Regions from separate parts of the Homo sapiens genome. Here all the other regions are linked to region 2. The links come from fine-mapping of genetic effects on plasma protein levels. A gene starts in region 2. Each other region holds a variant in brackets. All regions are shown on one strand. Distances are between the middles of the regions.

The links. A credible set is the group of variants that fine-mapping cannot tell apart. PIP is the posterior inclusion probability: the model's chance that the variant is causal. The UK Biobank Pharma Proteomics Project read protein levels with antibody pairs (Olink). The fine-mapping took linkage between variants from a reference panel, not from the people measured, so its PIPs are less certain.
Region 1: its variant is the best candidate, but not a certain one, in a credible set for the plasma level of the FAM13A protein (UK Biobank, PIP 0.70).
Region 3: its variant is the best candidate, but not a certain one, in a credible set for the plasma level of the FAM13A protein (UK Biobank, PIP 0.61).

What each region holds. Positions count from the first base shown.
Region 1 is chr4:89,010,126-89,012,893 of GRCh38, forward strand. The region is part of intron 3 of FAM13A (family with sequence similarity 13 member A); the gene reads right to left. Among named protein-coding and RNA genes, the nearest start is that of FAM13A, 46 kb to the right of the region's middle. The variant A/AAGGG (reference allele first, on the strand shown) is at 1,098.
Region 2 is chr4:89,056,138-89,058,905 of GRCh38, forward strand. FAM13A (family with sequence similarity 13 member A) reads right to left here and starts at 1,048. Exons shown (of 24, transcript NM_014883.4): 1 at 801-1,048. The coding sequence starts at 827. RefSeq lists an enhancer at 349-911.
Region 3 is chr4:88,695,127-88,697,894 of GRCh38, forward strand. All of the region lies in intron 23 of HERC3 (HECT and RLD domain containing E3 ubiquitin protein ligase 3), which reads left to right. It overlaps NAP1L5 (nucleosome assembly protein 1 like 5), which reads right to left and starts at 2,703. Exons shown (of 1, transcript NM_153757.4): 1 at 787-2,703. The coding sequence starts at 2,628. The coding sequence ends at 2,080. The variant C/A (reference allele first, on the strand shown) is at 1,164.

The DNA.
Region 1 (2,768 bases), 46 kb before region 2:
GAGATAGTTATGTCAGGGGTCCTCTATACAGTATGTACTGACCTTGTATGGAAAAATTTGTAACCCTGCTAAACTACTCTGCCTCTGCCTATATAAGTAAAACTTTAACCTCTCTACTTTGAACCTCTGTCCCCATTCCTTTGGAGTCTGTGTTTCCCGAGTGGTTATCCCCAGGCTTTGTACCGAATAAACTCTAAACTTAATCATATTTTCTGAATTTCATCATTTAAGGTTGACACTACCAAGTGTAACAGACAGCACCTAAGCCTTTGGGCTAAGTCCCAAATTTGCCTGGAGGTAGGGAAAGAGCATTAGGCAGCCACAGAAAGTTCCTAGAAAGTTGAAGACTGTCTCTTCCTTTCAGGACAAAAGATCAGGTCTGAGGAGCTGAAGCACTTTAAAATGTAAAGGTGCTACCCTGTGTACAGATAGAAAAGAAAAGATTTGAATAACTGAAGACAAAGGAACAGTAGTTGCCTCTGGCCTTATCTAAACACTAAGTTTGCAGGGATCTTTCCCTGGTGCTACTACAACTCACCTCACAAATTTCTTTCTCATTATTAGTATGTATTCACAACCATCTGATAAACTGGCCCTCTGCCATCATGTGGTTCTGTGGACCCCATCAAAGGTACAGACACCAGGGTCAGGCCACCAGACTACCCCTTCCTAACACAGTTTCTCAGGTCATCTCAAAACCTCTGACTTTTCTTACCCTCATTATCTTTTCTTTTTTTTTCTGAGATGGAGTCTTGCTCTGTTGCCCAGGCTGGAGTGCAGTGGTGCGATCTCGGTTCACTGCAACCTCCACCTCCTGGCTCAAGCGATTTTCCTGCCTCAGCCTTCTGAGTAGCTGGGATTACAGGCACCTGCCACCACGCCTGGCTAATTTTTGTATTTTTAGTAGAGACAGGGTTTCCTCATGTTGGCCAGGCTGCCCTCAAACTCCTGACCTCAGGTGATCCTCCCATCTCGGCCTCCCAAAATGCTGGGATTGCAGGTGTAAGCCACCATGCCTGGCCATCCTCATTATCTTAATAATTACCAGCTACGATGTTCTCTTCATGTTTTCTGTCTGTCTCTGGTAACCTTCCTTT[A/AAGGG]AAATCCCATGATGAGTTTCTTTTTGGAATGATGACAAAGAAAGTATTGGCACTGGATAGTGGTGATGGTTGCACAACACTGAGATTATACTTGATGTCCCTGAATTGTACTTAAAAATGGTTAAAATGGTAAATGCTATGTTACGTATATATTTACAACAATTTAAAAAATTTTCATTGTCCACTATTTATCTGATACAGATGGTTATAGGACTATGACCTAGATTTCTGTTAGCCTTCTAGATGTTCTCTCTGCATGTAGCATCTTCCCATCTAACCATCTTACACAGCACTGCCTAACATACTGCTTCTATTATGTGAGATCTTTCTTAAACATTTTATTATTTATATATAAATATTAATTTAACACTAATATTCAAGACCCTATACCACCTAACCTCAACCTACTTTTTCAATGGTATCTTTTGCTAATCTCTTCTAGCTACAGATAGCTCTGTCAGATAACTCTGTCTTACCGTGTTTTTGCTCATGTCCTTAACTCACTTAAAAGATTTTCCTCTCCATACAAGTTAATGTTGTCTCCAATCTTATTTTTCCCACAAAGTGTTTTCTGACCACCATAATCCAGGCTGGTTTTCTTCCCTCCTTGTTAGTTACCACTGACTGGATGTTTTTATTGTTCATTTAAAGCACTATTGTAGAATATATACAACATATCTTCTACTTCCTCAATTAAATCACACACTCCTTAAAATCAAGATGTTTAATTTTTCATTTCTTTGTATTACTCAGTATCTATTTAGAAGTTACTAAAAAAAATACTGATGGATGATCTAATTCCAAGTCATCAAATAACAATAAAAATACTCAACTATGATCTAGAACTACTTACATTTATATTAGAGAAGAATTTTCCACAGGAAACAGTCAATTAAAAATATTTCTAGTTAATCCTAAATTAAATGAATCCTCTTCTGCAATCTTTTTATGGCTTACAATTCACACCTATTTCCAAAACACACATGAGATTACAAAAATAAAAAGTACATATACTACTGCCCTACCAACATAAGGATAAAAGATCAAAAGGCATGGAATACACCAAGCTGAGATAATCATACTATAAACCTTGATTAAGGAAGATGAGTTGCTGCAGTCAGAGAGAAGCCTAACATGGCAATAGGAAAGGATGATCACTGAAGGTCCCTTCGAGTGTGTCTCTTAAATATAAATTGTCTAAACCTCTGAGAGGTATTGTGAGGCCTCTGAAAGAAGTGAAAGGTTCTGGAAGAAATAAAATAGAGAAAGAAGTCTTTGATAAAAATCTGTCATGCAGGTATACTGATTTGCTAACTAAAACCCATAGAATCTCAGAGCTTCAGACATCAGACACATCCAAAGTGTATAATTTGTTATAGAAATGAATGAATTTAAACAGTTTTCTCCCATGGAGGGCCACTGTTCATCTACAAGATGTTAAGGGTCAGGGATGCTTACAGACATCCAGACTGTTCTCACTGGCAGTTTGGTTTAGCCTAAATGTCTGAAAAAATACTTAGGGCTCCAGAACTCCATCCTATAAAGCATGGAAGAGAGGACTTTGATCTGAAAAATTTTAAGCACATTCAACTATGAAATCACTTGCTGTTTACACAGGATATAATTCAAAGGCCTACAACAACATTAAAAAAAAAAGAAATGTAGCATTGA
Region 2 (2,768 bases):
TAGCAACTTGAAACATAAATATGTGTAATTCTCATACAGATATATGCATTTTCTATATAGTACAATCAAAATTTAAATTACAGCATTCTGCAAATTATATAATTGACAATTTTTGATTATTACAAAAGGTTTTGTACAAGCACCAGCAGAATAATTTAGAAATTCATAAATTCTAAAAATTCTAAAACTCCAGAAATATGCACATTTTCCCAAGGATTTTATTTCAGTGTTATTTATTAATGCTACTGTGTTATAACAACCATTCATTTCTACAGTTTAAGGATACACAAACATTTATCAACTGAGCTTCTCCACCATCACTTTCAGCAATCATGCTGAAACAGAAACTCCAGAATTACTAAACGAAAATAGAAATATAAAACAGAAAAATGTCACACACATACTCAAAAGTAATAAATTAATGGTTACTTCAATTCCTCCTCAAGCTAGCCACAAGATTTCTCTAATAGCTATAATGAAGCATTCATGTTTAACTATTCAGGGACAAGAAAGTCTAAAATGCTTGAAAGTGCTCTACTTTAAATCAAGTTGACTTAACGGAATAAATCAGCATGCATCTTTCACCTTTTTTGGAAACTAAAGTGCACAAATATGCTGAATGCCATCCCAAATCCTGCCTAATACCCATTTAAGTAGATAGGAATTTAAGTAACAAATCTTTCCCCACCTCCTGGGAAGGAAAAATAAGTTACACAAACATCTCATCAAAACAAGGAAGGCAAGGCCCTCTCCTAAAAACTGGCAGTAAACACAGAAGACAGAAGAAGGCCTATACTTACACAGATGGCTAGAGCTCCTGCCCCCATTCTCTCAGAAAGCGTCTGGAAGAACTGAGGAAGACCAGACGAAAATATTAAAACGACAGCAAAATACTAAAATTCCATTCAGCACATATTCTTTGATGTGAAAAACAGCTCCCAATGCAAAGGCCCCAAGGTAAGCGAAGAGCAGCTTCTAACATTTTAGGAAGAGTGGTTTTGCTTCTCTTTCCGCTGAACCCACATGGCTGGAAGGACTGCCTGGAGTTGAAATTTGATCCACAGCCTCAGTGCTGGCAAGTAGAGGGAGTCACGTGACACGGGTCTTAAGTCGCTGACATCTTTTTTTCAAACCTGACTCCCTAGATCCTACACACAGGCTTCTTTGACTCCGAAAACTGCCAGTCACCTGGTGGCTTTCATTAATAGAACCAACAGTGCATAAAGTGAAAACACAGACTTGCTTCCCAGATTCCACACAGCTCTAAGCAAAATGTACGTATTCAGACTCAGGTTTAAAACTGCAGGCACATTATTCATTTTTTCTGAGGCAGTTTTCTCTTCTACTCTTCCTTAGAAACCAGCTAAATTCTACCAAAATTTTCTTCCTTCCATGCTACCCCATCAGAATTGTTTTAAATGAAAATGCTCTATTTTATGTAGCCGTTACTACTTCTAATTATGTATGAGTTGTCTTATAAAAATATACTGATGATAAACATAAACAACATACTTCTAGACAACCATAATTCTACATATGTGATTTGCAGTCTGAAAAATTAGCTAACTGACTTTTCAATAACTTTCTCTTCCACATGCTGTCACTAGAAAATTTGATAGATTTTAAAATTTACAAATATTTGAACTAATAGCTAAAATAGCCACTTCAGGTAAGCCAAAAGGAAACTATCCTATTTTTATTTTTGTTACCATTTTTTCTGTCAATTTGTTTTTCTTTTTTCTTTTGCTGTACCTATTGACCCATCCTCTAAGTTCTCTCCCCTCACCCCCAACCTCCCAACAGGCCCTGATGTGTGTTGTTTCCCCTTTGTGTCCATGTGTTCTCAATGTTCAACTCCCACTTATGAGTGAGAACATGTGGTGTCTGGTTTTCTGTTCCTGTGGTAGTTTGCTGAGGATGACGGCTTCTAGCTTCATACATGTCCATGCAAAAGACATGATCTTGTTCCTTATTATGGCTGCATAGTATTCCATGGTGTATATGTACCACATTTTCTTTATCCAGTCTATCATTGATGGGCATTTGAGTGGGTTCCATGTCTTTGCTATTGTAAACAGTGCTGCGATAAACATATGTGTGTATGTGTCTTTATAGCAGAATGATTTATACTCCTTTGGGTATATACCCAGTAATGGGACTGCTGGGTCAAATGGTATTTCTGGTTCTAGATCCTTGAGGAATCTCCATACTGTCTTCCACAATGGTTGAACTAATTACATTCCCACGGACAGTGTAAAAGCGTTCCTATTTCTCCACATCCTCTCTAGCATCTGTTGTTTCCTGACTTCTCAATAATTGCCATTCTAACTGGCTCGAGATAGTATCTCATTGTGGTTTTGATTTGCATTTCTCTGATGATCAGTGATGGTGAGCTTTTCTTCATAGGTTTGTTGGCTACATAAATGTCTTCTTTTGAGAAGTGTCTGTTCATATCCTTTGCCCACTTTTTGATGGGGTAGTTTGTCTTTTTCCTGTAAATTTGTTTAAGTTCCTTATGGATTCTGGATATGAGACCTTTGTCAGATGCATAGTTTGCAAATATTTTCTCCCATTCTGTAGGCTGCTTGTTCACTCTGATGATAGTTTCTTTTGCTGTGCAAAAGCTCTTTAGTTTAATTAGATCCCATTTGTCAATTTTGGCTTCTGTTGCCATTGCTTTTGGCATTTTTGTCTCTGCCCATGCCTATGCCCTGAATGGTATTGCCTAGGTTTTCTTCTAGGGTTTTTATAGTTTTGGGTTTTACATT
Region 3 (2,768 bases), 360 kb before region 2:
TAAGATAATCATATGATTAAGATAATCAGAACTTTGTATGTAACGTATTATTCTGATTTTCTCTTTTGGTTGGCCTGAGCATAATGAAGATTAACTTTACCTTAAGGTTGTTTGTACTCAACAATCTGTTGTGATTAGCAACAGGTCAGTGCTGCCTTCCATTCCCTAGGATAAAGCAATATAATTTTGCTTCTTTGTAATTTTAACCCTTCAGGGAAAAGGAAGCAAATGGCATCTGATTTTTTAATTTTTCTGGAGTCCAGTTTTTAAAAAAAACTTTCTGCTTCATTCAGAATGAAGCAAACATAAAGTTGAAATAGCCTTTTTTATCCTTTCTGGGAGATGATAAAAACCTGATATTATATTGAGGAAACCAAAACAAGATAGTTTATTTAATTTCCTGCATTTCTGAATTAAAGGCCACATTCTTCTCTCATAATAAGGAATCAAAAACATAGGGAGGGATGTAGTGATGTCTCTTTCTCCCATTTTGTAACAGGAGAGGAGGATTGAATTTCCAATCACTGTCTTTATCTTTCATGTAATAATAATAGCTAAGAATTATTCAGCACTTACCATGGTTTGGATGCTATTCTATAGGATTTATATGTATTAATCCATTTGCTCTTCATAGTAACCCATGAGGAAGGGACTATTCCTATTCCCTTTTGTAGATGAGGAGAAACTGGCCACTGAGAGTATTAGCTGAGTTGCCTAAGGTACATTACTAATAGGAGGCAGAGCTGGGATTTGAATGCAGGCAGTCACAGTACCGAGTCTTTTATATATATTTTTTGAAAATACTGTTTTATTAACACCACAGTGATAAACAACTTTAAGCTTATGTTTCTTTATAGATCACTGGCTCACACATAATTCAAAACCCACACAGAAGCTAAGAGTCTTTACATTAAATATATTCTTCCTAAAAATCCTTACTGTATGCATCTGTCCTCAAGCAGTAAAATTTGATTATGCACCATTTTATAATTAATATGTCACATTTACATAGCAAAATAATGAAGGCACAGCTAATACAAGCAAACTTAAACCCTTTCTACTTCTGAGCTGGGGGTAGGGGCACACACTTGGATTGGTTCTTCAAGTATATATTTTTTCCAAACATTAGCTTCAGTGAAGAGTTCTGATGATTTTCACAGCTA[C/A]ACCCTAAAAGCTACATGACAGAAAGACGTCACAAGGCGCAAAGTACATAACGCTGGATACACATGCTTTACATAATTTGCTACATTCTACATCTCTTCAAGTAAATTAATATTTCTAAAACGCTAGGTAAAGTGATTTAATACTTAAACATATTTGGGGTATTTTTTACGTGTTTGTAAATAGACAGTACTAAGAAAACACAAACATGAGATTGTAACTAATGAATACATATGTTGACAGTATTTTACAGGTTTTACACCCTCCTTCTTGGAACCATGTTGTTTCTCTAAATTCAAATACTCAAAACATTTTTCAGAACTTGAAATGGCAGTTTTCCTGGCCTTATTAACAGTAGTGTCATGATCTCCATTGCAATCTTCCTCAATGCCATCAATCTCCTGTGAAGTGTAAAGCTGATGTCTGCGTTACAAAAGCAAAGTCTCAAAGATGACGTTTTTCTTGGGTTCTGCCTTCTCTGCACTGCGAAATGTCATGAGTAAAGAAATTTAAGAATTAAGCACTGAGAACGTGTTCAGTCATGGCTTGGGTGTTCCATGTGTAGCGTATGCTGTGTGATGAATGGGTTTCAAAGTGACGTTCTTTACTTCGCATCTGCTAACACCCTTTGTAAACCTCAATCCTCAGAGAAGAGACCATGAAAACATAATTTTGGGTTTAATTCAGTTTTCTTTAACACCTTTTGATATATTTATTATGTTCAAAATGAAAGTCAAATTTGAATCGAGCTGGCCAGGATCTAATTGCTTTAATTTAATCTATTTTAGGAATGTCAGAATAAATTCACATTGTATTTTGGTCAAAAACCTGAGCCTTTTTAAGTCCATCGATATTCTGGGAAAAACAAAACCAGGCTTTTTTCTTCGTGGGCTTTCTCTTCATCCATCTCTGCCCCCCTTACTTCTTGGCGTCATCAGGCATCTCGGCGTGGGCATCGTCATGTTTGGCCCCCGCGGCAGCCTCTGCCGCAGCCTCCTCCTCCTCCTCGTCTTCCCCCTCCTCCTCGTCATCCTCGTACTCCTCTTCCTCCTCCTCCTCCCCCTCCAAGGTCCATGCACACCCCTCCATCTCGCCGGTGAGCTCTTGGATCTTGGCGAGTAGGGGCTTATAGATGTCATTATACTTTTTTTCCAGAGCCTGAAATTCCTTATCAAATTTGGCTTCTATCTTATCGCATCGCTTCTGCAGCTTTTTGAGGGCCAGGACTCGGCATTTCACCGAATTAGGCAGGCTCTCGATAAAGTCATTTTTCGGCTTTGGGGCATTCTCTGCAGGGGTCTGGGGCTCCTCAGCCATCTGACCAGCCGCGCTGTCAGGGTCACCAGCCGCGCTGTCACAGTCTCCACCCTGCGCACCGCCTTCCGCCATTACCTCCTCTGCCGCTGCCTCCGCCGCTGCCGCCGCCTGGCTAGGCTCCGCAGGCCCCTGGTTTTCCGAGTCGGCCATGTTAGAGGAGAAGCCGCAGAGGTCTAGGAGGGCTCCCGCAGAGGCCCTGCACCCGAGCTGGTCCAGAGAGATCTTGCGGATGCGGCAAGTGGCGGTGACGTGCGGCCGCGGGAATGACGTTGGCCGCGGCCCCGCCTCCT